Linked DNA regions of Homo sapiens: region 2 is linked to region 1. A link means that fine-mapping ties the variant in region 1 to the expression of a gene that starts in the linked region. Tissue or cell type: whole blood. Region 1 holds a variant in brackets; the other region holds the start of a gene. All regions are shown on one strand. Distances are from middle to middle.

What was found. PIP is the estimated chance that this variant, and not a neighbour inherited with it, causes the effect.
Region 2: it holds the start of ST8SIA1, and the variant in region 1 is fine-mapped to the expression of ST8SIA1 in whole blood (TOPMed, PIP above 0.99).

The regions. Positions count from the first base shown.
Region 1 is chr12:22,077,746-22,085,853 of GRCh38, reverse strand. LOC105369690 (a long non-coding RNA gene) reads left to right here and starts at 3,327. Exons shown (of 5, transcript XR_931423.4): 1 at 3,327-3,468. The variant A/C (reference allele first, on the strand shown) is at 3,261.
Region 2 is chr12:22,330,106-22,338,213 of GRCh38, reverse strand. ST8SIA1 (ST8 alpha-N-acetyl-neuraminide alpha-2,8-sialyltransferase 1) reads left to right here and starts at 3,507. Exons shown (of 5, transcript NM_003034.4): 1 at 3,507-4,217. The coding sequence starts at 3,982. LOC105369151 (a long non-coding RNA gene) reads left to right here and starts at 4,224. Exons shown (of 2, transcript XR_931426.3): 1 at 4,224-5,361; 2 at 7,106-8,108.

The DNA of each region.
Region 1 (8,108 bases):
TAGGCCTGGGTTTCTGCTATAAAATACAAGACATGAAACTTGAAGTAAACTTAAGAAGTAATATATTTATTTCCATAAAATGAGGAAGTAGTACAGAAAGACCCCTTGAGGGCCCATCCAGGTCAGTACCATTTCCACGCCCTGAAATGCCTCCCTCAGGGACACCACCCCTTGGAAACACAGAGAATAAGGAATGCAGTGCAAGTGTATGGAACAGGATAAAGAGATGTGAGGTCACTCCCCAGCCACAGTCATCTACTCTGGCTCTCATAGGTACTTCAGGTTTTCTGCTAAGCAGGCACAAAGGGGTTTCATTTTGAAGAATTATCCCACTATTTTTTACAGTGATGAAGGAAGGATAGGAAGTCCTTTAGAAGGGACTCCAGGAGCTGTACCAAACTCTGAAAATACTGATGATTAAGCCACATGGGGTCATCTCTTCTGAGCCTCCATACAGAAGTGAAGGGTGACAATTAAATAAGAAAAGTGTGACGATAGAGGTCTGCAGATATGAATCTGTGTGTTGGGGGACCCAGGAATGGGGCTCAAAATGAAGCCTCAGAGGCTGCAATAGGTAAGCAATGTTTCCTCAGACACAATAGGTACACCTAATGTACAATTGTTCTGGTGGGCATGTGTCCAGCATGCCCACATAGCCAGCTGGGTCTCATCTTTTGCAAAATATGGCCCTCTGGCCAGGTGGATCAGGCATGAGCAGAGAGACTATGGCTGAACTTGACGGCTCCTTGACAGATCCCTCACCCTCTTTATGGTCCAAAGCTGCCCAGTCTCCAGAGCCACAAAACCAGCCTTAGTTTAATGTTGCCTAGAGGGGTCATAGTCCAACTTTTTTAACTTCATTGGCATTCTTTTCCCAGTTGTACATTCATATCTTTTAGACCATTTCTCAAAGCACATTTTGCAAAATATCAGCATGCTAATTACCTCTGAAGTAATTGTTTAAAATTCCATTTGGGAATTGTTGCTCAAGAACAGTAGTAGTCAACTCCGGCTCCACATGAGAATCACAGGGGAAAAATATTTTTAATAGCAATTATCTGGGCCTCATACCAAAAGACACTGGTTTGATTGGTCTGGGTTATTCTAGGCATCTGAATGTGCTGGAAGCTCCCCACAGTGACTTGAGTGAGTTAGAGTCTCTTCCAACGAACAGGTGTATGTCTGGAGGCAGGTGGGCGGGATGAGGCCACCTGAGGCCTGTTGGTAATCAGGAAGAAAGTCTCCAATGCACACGGAGTACCTATTAAAAAGACTATAGGATGGTTCCTGAGCCTGGATTCCATCCTGCTGTGCTTTCAGAGGGCTGCTCTCTCTCCTTCCTTTCCAGAAAAGGGGGCCTTCACAATTTCATTCCTCTAATAGATTCTCACAATTCAGTGTGCATAAAAGTCATCTGATGGAATTTTACTAACATGCCAATTCCCAGACGTTATCCCAGAAATTTTGATTTAGTAGCACTGGGAAGGTGCTGGAATATATATTTTAGCAATTACTATATGATTTTGATGAAAGTGGTTGAGGGACCATCTTTGAGGAAACACTGCCTAAGCCTTCGCCAAGGTATAATCTGCTACCCTTGGGAATGTTCCCTGTCTTAAATTTTGGATCTAGCACCTAGTGTCTGGCCCTGGGTATAATCATTAACCTTTCTGTGCCTCAATTTCCACACCTGTAAAATAAATGAAATAAAAGTGCTTTATAGAGGTTGTGAGGATTAAAAGAAATTAAGATAGAGGTCATGGTAATGGCCTGAGGTAACCAGGTGATAGATCTGGGTAGCTTAGGGAATACGTGTGTGTGTGTGTGTGTGTGTGTGTGTGTGTGTGTGTTTTGAGACAGTCTTGCTCTGTTACCCAGGCTGGAGTGCAGTGGCACGATCTCGGCTCACTGCAACCTCTGCCTCCGGATTCAAGCGATTCTTGTGCCTCAGACTCCCAAGCAGCTGAGATTAGAGGCGTGCGCCACCATGCCTGGCTAATTGTTTTTGTATTTTTAGTAGAGATGGGGTTTCGTCATGTTGGCCAGGCTGGTCTCACAGCCCTGGCCTTAAGTGATCCACCTGCCTCGGCCTCCCAAAGCGCTGGGATTACAGGCTTGAGCCACCGCACCAGGCTGGGAATACATCTTTCTTTTCGGTTGGCGCTGGTCCTCTAGTAAGGCAGTAGCTTAATCATTTACGTGTCCTCTTTCTATCTCAGCCTTCCCACCACACTTCCCCACTCAAGGCTCACTCCAGACATTGTTAGAAGAAATTTTCCTTCTATCCATGTGATGTGTTGTAAAGAAAGACTAAAAAGTATCCAAATTGTACTTTATAAACAATTTCCTATAGTGGAGATTGATACTCAATGTATGAAGGTCAAATGATGAAGATGTACCATTAAGCCTCATCAGACTCTATTAGTTAATTTCAGTCAGCAAGTGACAACTGCACATTTTAAAACCTAGATCTGTGATGACACCCAGTGGCCAAAATGTCAACCACTGAAATTTTAAAAATACATCAAGTATTTTCATCAGCATACAAATAATATTGCATCAACTTTAAATTTTGAGAGCTATTCAATAACAAAGCATGAAAAGGTTCTACACTGGGAATGTCACCAATGAAATGTGGACAAACCAACTTTCTTTAGTACTGTATTTAGTAGAACTTTCCCAACCAGTTCAGGCAGATAAAAGCACCAGGTTATCAAAGGTGACACATTCCTAAAAAAAAAAAAAAAAAAAAAAAAAAAAAGCTTTTAAACTTGGAAAAAGTAATTTGCATCAGTATATAGCAAAGAACCAATGACCAAATGCAGGAGAGTACAACAGAGATTATTAAGACTTCACACATGGTCCTTTAAATAATTAGAAAATCATTAACATGCTTAGCTTGGCAATTCAGATAACAGTAATTACTTTAGCCAGTACCCATCCCAAAAGGTACAGGATATTTTGGACATTCTTTCACTTGCTCATTCAAAAATATTTCCTGGTGTCCTGGGTTGAGAAGCAGGCTTGGGGAGGGAGATTAATGTCCATGATGTTTGTGAAGGCAGGCTCCTGGGATCGCACTTGTAGATGGAAAACGAAGGAGGAGGATTGTGGAGAGAGAGAGGAGATGGTTCCTATACAGCCTCGGTTGACTCACAGAGAGCGCTGAAGCTAGCCTGGCCTCTCAGCTGTTGTCCATTCTTGGGGTAATGAAGCAGGGCTTTTATCCTCTGCCTCCATCCAGTCACTGGATGTGGGCT[A/C]CTCCCAGAAAGGGAGTAACCTTAGGTGAGGCAGCGCTGAAGAGGCCTGACAGCTGAGGCTTGTCTACTGACAACACTCCCAGCAGCTGAGGGGGATAAGACCTCCAGGCTCAAGGGTGAGCTCTACGGCCCAACACAGCGTCCACCACACTGACGCAATATGATGCCGACAAAATAAACAGGCTTTTCGATCTTCTGTAACTTGAAGGTAAGTATTAAGCCAATGAACACTTCGATATATACTTAAGGCTGTGAAGGAAGAGAGGGCTTTAAGAGAAGAAAGGGCAGGGGTTGGGGGAAGGAGAGGAGGGCTAACGCCTGGCTGTCTGCTGGTTTCATAATCAGGGCGGAGTGGCAGGAAGGATACAAAAGAGAACTATAACACTTGGACTGGGAATTGTTTACCTTATTCTGTGGGCAGCATGGAGTCACTGAGACTTTTACAAAGGGAACAGAAAGCATAAAGTAGACAAGTAAAGTGGTAGTGGAATAGATTGGATTCGAAGGAAATTAAGCATTTCAAAGTCAACACAGGAATCAAGCATTTTCTTTTGAAGGTCATCTCCAATTTGGTCCTGTGTTTCTGGTCTCATTTCTTACCATTACCTTGTAGATCCTTTCAGGCCTATACAGATAACGACCTCTTCCATTATCTGAACACAAACGTTAACTCCATTTTTTTTGATATTGTCCTTTGACACCAATGAAATTTTCTAGTTTAAGATCCAGCTCAAATTTCACCTCCACTTGAAAAGATTTTTCTGCTTCAAGCCCTTTAAGGGTCTCTCTCTACCCTTATTTTCAGGATAAAGCAAAAATGTCTTAATGTAACTCACAAAAACCAGTACAATCTGGCCTCTGTTTATTCACCTCGCCAGACTCATATCATCCCATTCCCCTATATTTGTTTGCCGAGGTGGTGAGCTTGTGCCTTATTTGGCTTTTTATTAGGTTGGGGCAAAAGTAATTGTGGTTTTTGCCATTAACCACAATCACATTTGCACCAACCTAACAATTTCAGGAAATGTAATAATCTTTGACATGCTAAATGCTATTCATTGTTAAATTGAGAAAAGGTAAACAATCTTCACAAATAAAATTACTTACTTTTGATAGCTCTTCCCCTTCAATGAATCATGGTTTAATACAGAGTATTGGCTGGGTGCAGTGGCTCATGCCTCTGCTCCCAGCTCTTCAGGAGGCCAAGGCGGATGGATGGCTCCAGCACAGGAGTTCAAGACCAGCCTGGTAATGTAGTGAGACCTCATCTCTACAAATAAATACATACATAATAATAAAGAATATTTCTTTTCTAAGTTCACTGATGTACTAAGAAATTTAAGACTTCTGCACTATAATTTGTAGCCAATCATCCCCAGAGCCTTAAATGCTCATGTTAATCATAAATATGATATATGTTTCTTCTATGTGAAATATTTCTTCTAAGTAAAACATTAGTACATTTGCATCTGTAGAATTAGAAGGGACAATTAAAAGGGACAATAGAGATCATCTATTATAAGCGCCTCAGATTATAGTCAAATAAACTGGCTTGTGGGTGTTAAATGTCTTGAAAAGCATACCTTAGCTAGTTCGTGACAATGTTGAAGCTAGAAACTAAGTTCATTTATTGCCAATAATAATAAACATTTAGAGGCCCTACACGAGCCAGGTACTCCTCTAGACATGCTATATATATTATCTCATTGAATCTTCACAATCCTGTGAGGTGATACTGTTATTATCTTCAATTAGAGCAAAGAAGCTTAGCCACGGAAAGGTTGGCTAAACTTGTCCAAATTCCAAAATGCAAAATAATTAGAATAAAAACCCTCAAAAAGATCTTTCTCTTTTCACCTTCTCAAATTTCCAAACCCAGATGTATCAACATATATAATGCATTAAAAATTAAACTCCTTCCATTAGAAAGTAGACTCCATCTTCTGACCCCTTGATCTGAGCTGGATGGTCAGTAACTTGACTCACTTTGACCAGTAAAATTGAGGCTGAAGTAACATTGTGTGACTTCTGGGGAAGTTATCAAAAAGTGTTGCAGCATCCAATCTCACCTTCCAGCTGCTCAGAGACTGTCACGTTAAGACACTTAAACTAGTTTCCTTAAAGTTGAAAGACTGCAAGAAGAGAACAGCCCAGACACCAGTAGATATATGTGAGGGAAATTGACTTGGACTGTTCATCGATTCCCACCATCAACTGACTGCAACCACAGAGTGAGACCATGAAAACAACTCTACTTACCTTAGCCCAAATTGTTGATCCACAGAATTATGAAAAAGTAGTTATTTTTTCAAGTAAACGTGCTTTGAAGCTATTTGTTATATAGTAATTGATAATTGACAGAGCATATGATACTGTCGTTTGATCGATTTACCATGGAATTTCTCTTCCTATCATTTTGTTTTTAACTTTTCTGAGTCTTTAAATTTAAAGTAGGTTTGTGGTAGCCAGCACACAGGTAAGTCTAGTTTTTTTTTTTAATTTAATTCAACCTGACAGTCTCTGGTGTGTTTAGAACATTCATATTTAAAGGGATTATTGATATAGTTGCATTAAAATTTACCATCTTTGTAATTGTTTTCTGTTCATTGCATTTGTTCTTTATTTCTTTCTCCTGCTGTTTTTCTGACTTCTCTGGGGTTAATTAAGCATTTTGTATGATTTGATTTTATATCTTTACTTGGTATATCATATATCTTTTATAAAAAATTTAGTAATATCCCTAGGGTTTACAATATATATTTTAAAATAAGTCCACCTTCAAATAACATTATATAACTTTATAAGACTACTCCCGATTCATTCCTCCCATTCCTTGTGACATTGGTGTCAATTATTTCACTTGTCCATATGCTATAGTCACCCTATACATTGTTACTATTATTACTTTAAATAGCTATCTTTTAGATCAATTAAAAATATTATTTTAATTTCACTTGTTCCTTTTCTAATGCTTTTCTTTGTATAATTTTTGACCTATATCATTTTTTTTTCTCTCTGAAGAATATCTTTAACATTTTTGCAGGGCAGGTCTGCTGGCAATGAAATCCCTCAGTTTTCTCCACAAAAGGCTTTATTTTTCACCGTTGAAGGAAAATTTTGCTGAATATAGAAATATAGGTTGACAGGGTTTGTTTCAGCATTTCAAAGATTTCACCTCACTCTTCTTGCTCACGTGTTTCTGAAGCCAAATCTGATATAATCTGTATCCTTAGTTCTGGTTTGTTTTTTTTTTTTTCTCCTTCTGGCTTCCTTCAAGATTTTCTTTGTCTTTGATTTGCTGCAGTTTGAATATGAAATGCCTGGTTGTAGGATTTTATTTTTAATTGTTTGTTTTGGACTTCTCTGAGCTTCCTGGATTTGTAGTTTGATGATACCGTTATTATCTTCAATTAGAGCCAGGAAGCTTAGCCACAGAAAGGTTGGCTTTGGTGTTTGTCATTAGTTTTGGGAGTTCTTAGCCATGTATTATTTCAAATATTTCTTCTGTCCTGTTCTATTTCTTATGCTTCTGGTATTCAGTTATACCTTTTGATATTGGCCCACAGTTCTTGCATATTGTATTCTTTTTTAAAATTTATTTTCCTTCTGTTTTTCAGTTTGGGAACTTTTAAAATTGAGCAATATTCTGGCCGGGCGCAGTGGCTCACGCCTGTAACCCAGCACTTTGGGAGGCCGAGGCGGGTGGATCACGAGGTCAGGAGTTCGAGACCAGCTGACCAACATGGTGAAACCCCGTCTCTACTAAAAATACAAAAATTAGCCAGGCATGGTGGTGCGTGCCTGTAATCCCAGTTACTTGGGAGGCTGAGGCAGGAGAATCACTTGAACCTGGGAGGTGGAGGTTGCAGTGAGCCAAGATCACGCCACTGCACTCCAGCCTGGGCAACAGAGTGAGACCCCGTTTCAGAAAAAAAAAAAAAAAATTTGACCAATATTCAAGTTTACCTATTCTTTCCTTAGCTATCTCAAGTCTACTGATAAACCACCAAAAGGCATTCCTCATTTCTGCTACTGTTTCTTTGATTTCTAGCATTTCCTTTTGATTCTTTCTCATAGTTTCTGTCTGTATTGACATTATCTATCTGATTTTGCATGTTGTGTACTTTTTTCCATCCCTTTTTTTATTAATCATAGTGTAACTGTGTACCCTCATTTTTCTAAGAGATAGTTTTTTACTATCTTTCTTCTTCTCGCTCTCCTTCTTTTCCCCACTTCCTACTTAGGTCTTTAGAAATGCAGTTATAGCCTTTACCTCCTCTTCACCAGACACTCCCTAGAGGGCAAGTTTATTTAACTAGGTTGTTAGAAGCTCCAGAGTGAAACTCTCCTACCAGGAGGCTGCCTAAAGAAACAACAGTCCATCTACTACCTAAAGTATTTCCACTGTGAAACTCTCTCCCACCTGGAGAATTTTCTGCTGCTTTTACAACCTAGTCTTGTCCACAAAGGGACCAGCAGTTACCAGCTTGACCACCCGGTAGATAAGGCACCGAGGCTAGTATGCAGACCCCCCACCTGCTCACTGACTCCTCTGCATGTCATTCATGCCAGCATGCTGGGCCCCCTTTAAAAGCACCCCACTTTCTGCTCCAAAAGTGAGGTGGTACCCATAAAGACAAGATCCTGCTCCTCTTCCCCTAAGCAAGCTTTGGAATAAAATGTCACTTTCTTTATACCTTGCTCCTGTTAATTGGAGTGACTGGACTTGTGTTTTGGTTACAAAATGTGGAGTGGGGAGTGACTGGACTTGTGTTTTGGTTACAATTTTTGTGGCTCATATGGGGAAGTACTTCATGCCCTGGGTGAGCTAACTTTGTCAGCCCAGTT
Region 2 (8,108 bases), 250 kb before region 1:
ACACACACACACACACACACACACACACAGAGTTACTTGAAGGCCCAGACCTTTCTCTCTCCTGATAAGTCAGTTAACACTTGTTTAATTGCTTTCCTGCTTGTGAACTTTTTGACATCCTTTGTCTGCTTTTGTATTCCTTCGTTTTTTCTTGTTCTTCTGAATCTTTTTCACTTTTACTCCTTTACTCTTCTTTTAGTGAGGTCACAATAGGGAGTGGAGATAAATAAATGCATTTATTCAGATAAACTATATTTATAACCTTTCTCAATCTACAACCTTATTTACCTTGGTGTTGTAATTGGTTGTGAAACAGGCATCATTTTATGCTTTTGACTGGCCATTCCAAGCCATTCTGACAAGAAGAACTTGAGCAGAGACTGAAGATTGGCCTTTTAAAATTTTATCTCAAATCACTGACAATTCTGTTTAATCTGGACTCCTGCCTTTACATTTTTCTACTACACATTTATAGAGTTTTAAAAGTTGTTTAGTCCCTGAGGAAATCCTGTTTGTGTCCGCTAAGCATACTCAGATGCAGAAGTATAAAAGAATACCTAAGCTACTTACTATAAGTCATACAAACAAGATGGCTAAATATCAATTAAAATATTTTATTTAAAACATTAAAACTTGGGGGTTCATACTTTTCCTTAAACAGTGATGCCTTGGCAATAGACTGAATAAGTTTGAGGATCTCATTATAAAACCAAGCAACAATTATTTGTTGAAGTGCCTGAGTTGATACCTGGAGGAACATGAAGAAAATGTGAAATATTGTTCTTGCTCTTCTCCTAGACACTTAGCCATGCCCTGTGGAGTCCTAATTTGATCAAAAGCACAGGCTTTTCATTTGATACATAAAACTAAATCCCCTTCCTGCCTAGTTGGTGAGACATAGTTATATATGAAAAATACTAGCAATACAAGACAACACAACACAACTAAGTGTTTAATCATCAGTCAGAGCCAGCAAATACTATGACATCAGAACAGGAGGTCAAAGAGAGTAGAAGCAGATACCACAAATATTTATTGAGTTCTCATAAAGTCTGTGTTTTAGGTGTCCTGGGAACACATTATTGAATGAGAACTTTCTAGATAACTTGGCTTGGTCTTGAATAATGCACTGGATTTATACATGGGGAGAAAAAGAAAACAAAAACAAACACACATCACATGAGCGGATCACAACACTGTGACAGAACTGAGACCTGTGTGTGATATAGTTTGGCTCTGTGTCCCCACCCAAATCTTATCTTGAATTGTAATCTCCGTAACCCCCCTGTGTCCAGGGTGGGACCTGGTGAGAGGTGATTGGATCGTGGGGGCTGTTTCCCCCAGGCTGTTCTCATGATAGCGAGTTCTCACGAGATCTGATGGTTTTATAAGTGTTTGACAGTTCATCCTACACACACATTCTCCCTCTTGCCTGCCACCAAGTAAGACATGCCACTTTGCCTTCCACCAGGATTGTAAGTTTCCTGAGGCCTCCTCAGCCATGTGGAACTGTGAGTCAATTAAACCTCTTTCCTTTACAAATTACCCAGTCTCAGTGGTATTCTTTATAGTAATGTGAGAACGGACCAATGTAGTGTGACTTGGAAGGGTGAGAGCGATGACCTGATTAGATTTGGTGCTCATGTTAAGAAAAAGCAGGGAATAAGTTTGGATTGTTGGGTGGGCAGAAGCCCACCAAGGTAAGAGAATTCTTAGTTTGCAGAAGAAAGAAAAACAGCACATTGTGTCACACAGATCTTTTGATGTAAAGCATGACTTTAATGCATTCTTATGATATTATATAGGGAAACATTTACATAGCCCCTTCATAACTGTAATATGCCCTAGTTTTGTTTGTCAGTTTATTTCTTTGTTATTTACTCTACAAATAGTCCTTGAACTTGAGGAAGAAAAATGGGAATGGTTTGTGTTTTACTTAAATTATAAGATCAAAGATGGCAGATGATTTATCCAAAGCCCAGGCAAGTAGGAAAAGCTCCCCCTTCCCTTCCCCTTTTCCAGGATAGAAGAGAGTTGGCTGGTTACTTTGCAGGACTTAAGATGATCTTCATTTTAAAGAATCTGTATCAGCCTCCACTGTGGTAAGATGTGACTGGGATTTCAAGGTTTCCCCTGTCTCTACTGATTTACCTAAGTAGGACAGAGATTTCTGGGGCATGCCTGCCGGTGGAGGGCAGTAGGTCACTCAACTAAGAGCACAGTATTGTTGAGAAAATGACACTAAAGTGGTCATCTGGGATGCTACTTCGCTTTTGGTAAATAACTTTGCATCAACTTCTCAAGTTCCACCTCTCAGTGGAGACGGATGCTAGACAAAGGTACCAGACACCGCAGCCTGGTCGGCTGAACAAATGGAGTTATAGCCTTAGATTTTGTTTTCGTGATGACTAAGCTGACCAGGTTTCTTCTTTGTCCTTGCACACTTTATGCTTGACGAGATGCTTAAGCAAATAGAATAGGCGACCGCTAGGAGGTACCCGAGCTATGCGTCGGCCGCCGGGGCGAGCAGAAATGGCTAACAGCGACTCTCTCGGCTCGGTGGGTCAAGGCGGGTGGTGCTTTTCCAAGGTCGGGGTTGCGATAAGCTTATCGCTTATCACAAGCAAGAAGGGCAAGAAGGACGTCTAAGAACCAACGGTCCTTTAATCTAAAAGGCCGCGCGCCTCCAAGGCAATGTGACATCTTGAGGTCTAGTGTTTGGGCACCAGCTGCCTGCACATCTGGATGCAGCACTTCCTTTCAGGGAGGAGGCGAGGCGGAGGACCCCGGAGTGCACGCACCTCCTCGTGCGCGCGCTCGCTTGCGCCCGTGAACGTGTGTGTGTGTGTGTGTGTGTGTGTGTGTGTGTGTGTGTGTGCGGGCGCGCGCGCACACACACGGGCCGCGGCTCCGGGACCGGCTAATGGGGGTGGGGGCCCAGGAAGGAATAAATCTCCGCCAGCCTCCTCGCGCCTGGCTGCGGGTTAATATCCAACCAGCTAGAGAAAGACTAGGGTGACGGCAGCAGGGTGACAGCCTGGGCACACCGGCCGCTTGTCGAAGGATCAGGATATTAGCCAGTCTCCGCCACACTCAGGGACTGATATATTTCTATTGGCGGGGGGCTGTTGGTTTTTATTGTCTGCCGTTATCTCCAAAGAACAAGGGCACGAGTGAGGGGTGCGCGCTCTGGGCGAGTGTCGCGGCTCGGATCGGGTCGAAGGAGGCAATTTTGCGGGTGGGGGAGGGAGGGGGAGACCTTGATTTCCACCAATCCCCGGGCGTTTGTCTGCGAAGTCCGGGGCGCAGCGGAAGGCTGCGGCGCGCCGCTGAATTAACTGATGAGAGCGAGTTCTTTTCTTCTCCGGGAGGGGTGGGGAGCGAGGGTCCCGGCGGGCGAGGCGGAGGAGCCCGGGGCAGGATAGCGGTCCCGGGCCGCCGTGGAAATTTCCAAGGACTTGGTGCGGCGCAGAGAGCGCGTCTCGGGGCGGGGTGGGGGGGGGGGGGTTGCCTGGCGGCGCAGCAGCGCGGGAGGCGGCGAAGGGCGCAGGAGCATCGCTCGGAGGGGACAAGGGGACGCCACGGGCCACATGTTTAGGAGGGAGCCGAGCCTTCTCCCGGACCCTCGCCGAGGGCGACCGTGATGCTGCAGAACCGGCGGGAGCGACTCGCCGCCGCCGCTCTCTGCGCACTCGGAGACCCCAGCGCCCGCCTTCTGCAGGGGAAGCGACCATGGCCATAGATCGTGACTTCACCCCCAGCCACTTCCCCTAGAAAGAAATCCTTGGAAAAGTTGCATTTGAAAAAATCCTTGCGCTGACCTTTGGGGCCGACGGGGCCGAAGAAGCGTGCGTGCGTTTGCAAGTAAGAGAACCAAAGGTGTGTGTGCATGGGGGGCTGGCGGTGGGGGACCCTCCGCTGCCACTTCGCCTAGCTTTGTGCTGAGGCCCCGGCCCCCGCCCCTGGGACGCCGGGGCTGCGATGAGCCCCTGCGGGCGGGCCCGGCGACAAACGTCCAGAGGGGCCATGGCTGTACTGGCGTGGAAGTTCCCGCGGACCCGGCTGCCCATGGGAGCCAGTGCCCTCTGTGTCGTGGTCCTCTGTTGGCTCTACATCTTCCCCGTCTACCGGCTGCCCAACGAGAAAGAGATCGTGCAGGGGGTGCTGCAACAGGGCACGGCGTGGAGGAGGAACCAGACCGCGGCCAGAGCGTTCAGGTACTCCTGCCCTCGCGGCTCCTCCCCTCTAGCGTCCTTTCCTCCCCGAGTGCAGAGGACAGGGTCACCGGCGAGGACCGCCTTGCACCGTCTCGCAGAGGCATCCCTTTCATCCGCTCTTCCATGTCCTTTCCCTCCATTTGTGCCATTCCCAACCTGGAGACTTTAGTCAGGGTTCCTTCCCCACCCCTGATCCCCAGAGATGTGCAGACACCTGCTTTGCGCATGTAAAGACTCGACGCATTTCTTCCCAAAGCGGAGTTTTATTTAACAATTTACGGATAAACAAAACAGAGGGAAGGAGAACCCAGGATAACTTAGTCTCTTGCACTTAATAAGAATTTACCTCTTGGGCTCTGCAGACATTTGAAGCTGTAGGGAACAAGAAGCAGGTAAAAGGCATCTCCCCGAGGTGGAGTGCACAGTCGGTAACATAAGTCCCCAACGTCGGAGTGATGGGCAGTGGAAACATGGACGGATCCCGCAGCTTTGCGCAGTGTGCCCACAGCAAGTGCATAGTACTGACTGACGTCTACTAAGAGACGATACTGTGCAATTTTTGTGTTGAAATCTCGAACAGCTGTCTAGTATTATTATCTCATCTTGTTGACCACAAATTGATTCTTTAGAAGGATGAGTAACTTCCCCAAGGTCATTACTTTTGACCTGTGGGTGCTGGATTTTTCATCACTTAAAGCTCCAAAGCTCCCAGCTCTTTTTATTGGCTTAGGCTGTGGATGCCTCTGGAAGATGGGAGATGTACTTTAAGTAGGCACCTGAAGTCAGAAAACAAACAAAATGCCCAAGCCAGGTTGGAAATCAGAACTCTGAGGATCACTCAGAGGTTGTAGATCCGCTTCCTTTCTGGGAATTTTAGATTAAATGTCTAAAAATAAGTTACGGCAGCAGGGGTTGTGTAGTTAGATTGGAGGGAAGGCAGAGCTGCTTCCCCTTCCTCTCCACCTCCCCAGGCATGTTGAGGGAACACACGGGTGCTTCCACCACTGCGAGGTGCCCCTTTCACCTTTAGTCTCTGGGGCTGAAGATGCTGCTGTTGGCTTCTTCCTGTGATTGTAGTGGTCTGGGTGGTTGGAAATGATCTCCTCTGCTCTGTAGAGGATCTTTCTAATCAGTGCAAGGGCAGGTGAGTTCTAATGTAAACATTTTTCACTGCAGTTATTTACAAATATTCAGGAGCATCTATACATTTTTAAAAACTTTTTAAACATATGGTTTCCATCTCCTTCTCAGGCCTCCTCCTGGAAAGAGGATTAAAAAGATAACAGAGCCAATTTGTTTAGAGGAAGGCAACTGCATTCTCCTTGGAAGGGAGGACTTTCCTTCTCCCTTTTTAGAACTCTACCATCATTGAATTTAAAAATAACCTCACTCTTCCTAAAAGTATCTAAGGGTTAATTTTTTCTTTCCTTCACAGTATTGATTGTGGGACTCAAGAGCAGGCAAAAGGCATCACATCCAGCAATTATTTTCCCTAAAGACAGAAAGCACTTTCATTTCAAGTGATCTAAGGAAATGAGTTAAGAACTTCCCATTGGTTTGCAATGAAAGAGTCCATTTTTTTAATATAGGAGGAGGAATAATGAAGCCCTCTTAGAGGATAGATTTCTTGTTGGAGGATACAGTCAAGTGGAAAATGCTTCAAATTCTGAGACACACAGGCTGATAGTTTCTGAGACACATTTGTTCCTTGCTTTCTGTAGCCTGGAGTAATTTTCAGTGTGTTTGGCTGTTATCTGGTCTGGTCTCTATGTGCAGAGAATTACTTATTAAAATCCACACACTATGAAAACTACCTAAACACATATCCCTCAAAGTTAGTGGCTGTAAAACCATGTAAAAGGCACCATTGCTTATTGAAATAAGTTTGAGCTTCAGAGTAGAATTCTGAATTTCTACACTGAGTATGCTGTGACTAGATAAACAGCAGAGAATCTTTGGCAAGTTAGTATATTTTTTGAGTCCTGGCTTTCTTGTTTATCTACATTGCAGAGTTGTTAGAAGGTTTACATTTTTAATAAAAACTGATGCCAAGTATCTGGTACATTGTGTACCCAGAAAATGGTTGCCTTATAATTGTTATAAATTATATTTCTGGTATATGTTACAACTTAAATAAGGAAATCTGGGCAACCCATGAGAATTTGGAATGTTTCTCCTGCCAGATTTACAGGTAAACATTATTGGTCCCTACCCCTCTCCCCAGCCATGTACACTTAACGCTAATGAACAGGGACAAGACATTTTGAAAGGTAGGAGAAGTTTCATGGTTTGAGTTAATTATTTTTTACCTGCACATTTAATGTTCTTTAACATTTGGATTGTCAGTATATGGCAGTAGTGTTTATTTGTTAAATATTAGACCAGTCAGTCAGAAGCCATTATCATGTTAAGGAGACACAACTTTGACAAACAAGCATCTGTTTTTCTCCAGTCTGAAACATCTTCTGCATAAATACAGATATATGCACACAAATGCACAAGGTGCACTTATATGTTGAGATATAGGTGCATTTATTCACAAATCATGGAATGGTGTCATGTATGTATAAAAATATAGATGTGTATACATACATAAATACAAACATTTGCAATCAGTCAATTAAACAATATTTCATGAGTGACTACTCTACATCAGATATGTGTTAGGCCCTGGGGGATAGCAGTGAATAGGATGGATAGATTGCCTCCTCTAAGAGCTTTCCTCCTAGTAGAGGATGATTGACACACAAATAAATACGATGACTTAACATACGGTTAAATTCTGTGAAGAGAAAAGGGAGTGTTTCACTATGTTTATAAACACCAAAATTTAAGATTTTATTTTGCCCTCTGTGCTTCCATTTACTTTTGTAATTTTCTTCTTCTAGCTCAGTACTTGATATGTACTGAATTCTCAGAGAAGAACCTTGTCAAACTGCGAAGGAGATGGCAGGAAGAAAGTAAGAAAGCTGTAAGAGTTTTGAATAGAACAGGAAGTTTTCCTAATGTTTATGTGGTGATAGAAAGATAAAGGAATCAATAGATCCTATTATAGAAACTTTCTTAATTCTTGTTGCTTTTGATTAAGTGATACTGTGGGAAATGCCAAACCAAAGCAGTGTTTGTTTCTTCCATCAGATCCTCACCCATTTCATTTGCTCCTCAGAAATGAACCTGAATTCAGAATTTATGTGCAAGGCTTTATTCATGGCACCTGACATGGTAACAATAATAGTAACAATTAAGCTAACAAGTTATTAGGTGCTTATTATCTGCCTGACACTATGCTAGTATGTATTGTCTCATTTAATCCTCATAAGAATCTTGTATAAATTGATATATCATTATCCACATTTATGAAAATGAACATGCCCTGGTCTTCAAGGGAGTTGCTATAATCCCATGGAAAAGACAGATAATGTATATAATTAACTAACTGGAAATAGGGCCATCAAAGACAGGAAACATAGCAGAGTGAAAACCTTATGGATTTGGGAGCTGTCAGAACATGGTTGGAATTCTGGCTGTATCCCTTTCTAGTTGTGCAATCATTGGTAAGTCCAATCTCAGAGCTTCAGTTCCTCCATTTGTAAATTGGGGCTTGTAAGAATGTCTTACAAGTTTGTGGTGAAAATTACATGATAGCATATAGACAGCGCCTGGAATGATGCTTGCCACATAGCTCTGTTTAATACGTGATTGTTATAACAATAGAAACACCAGTGAAGTGCTGGGGATGTTCCCAGAACATGACATTTAATTCTACTGAAGGGAGGGAAATCGGGTTTCAGAGAGGAGGTGGTGTTTGGAGTAAGCCTCCAAGGATGGTAGGGTGGCATAGTGGTAAGAGGTGAGGATAGAAGTATATGCCAGGCAGAGAGAACAGCAAAG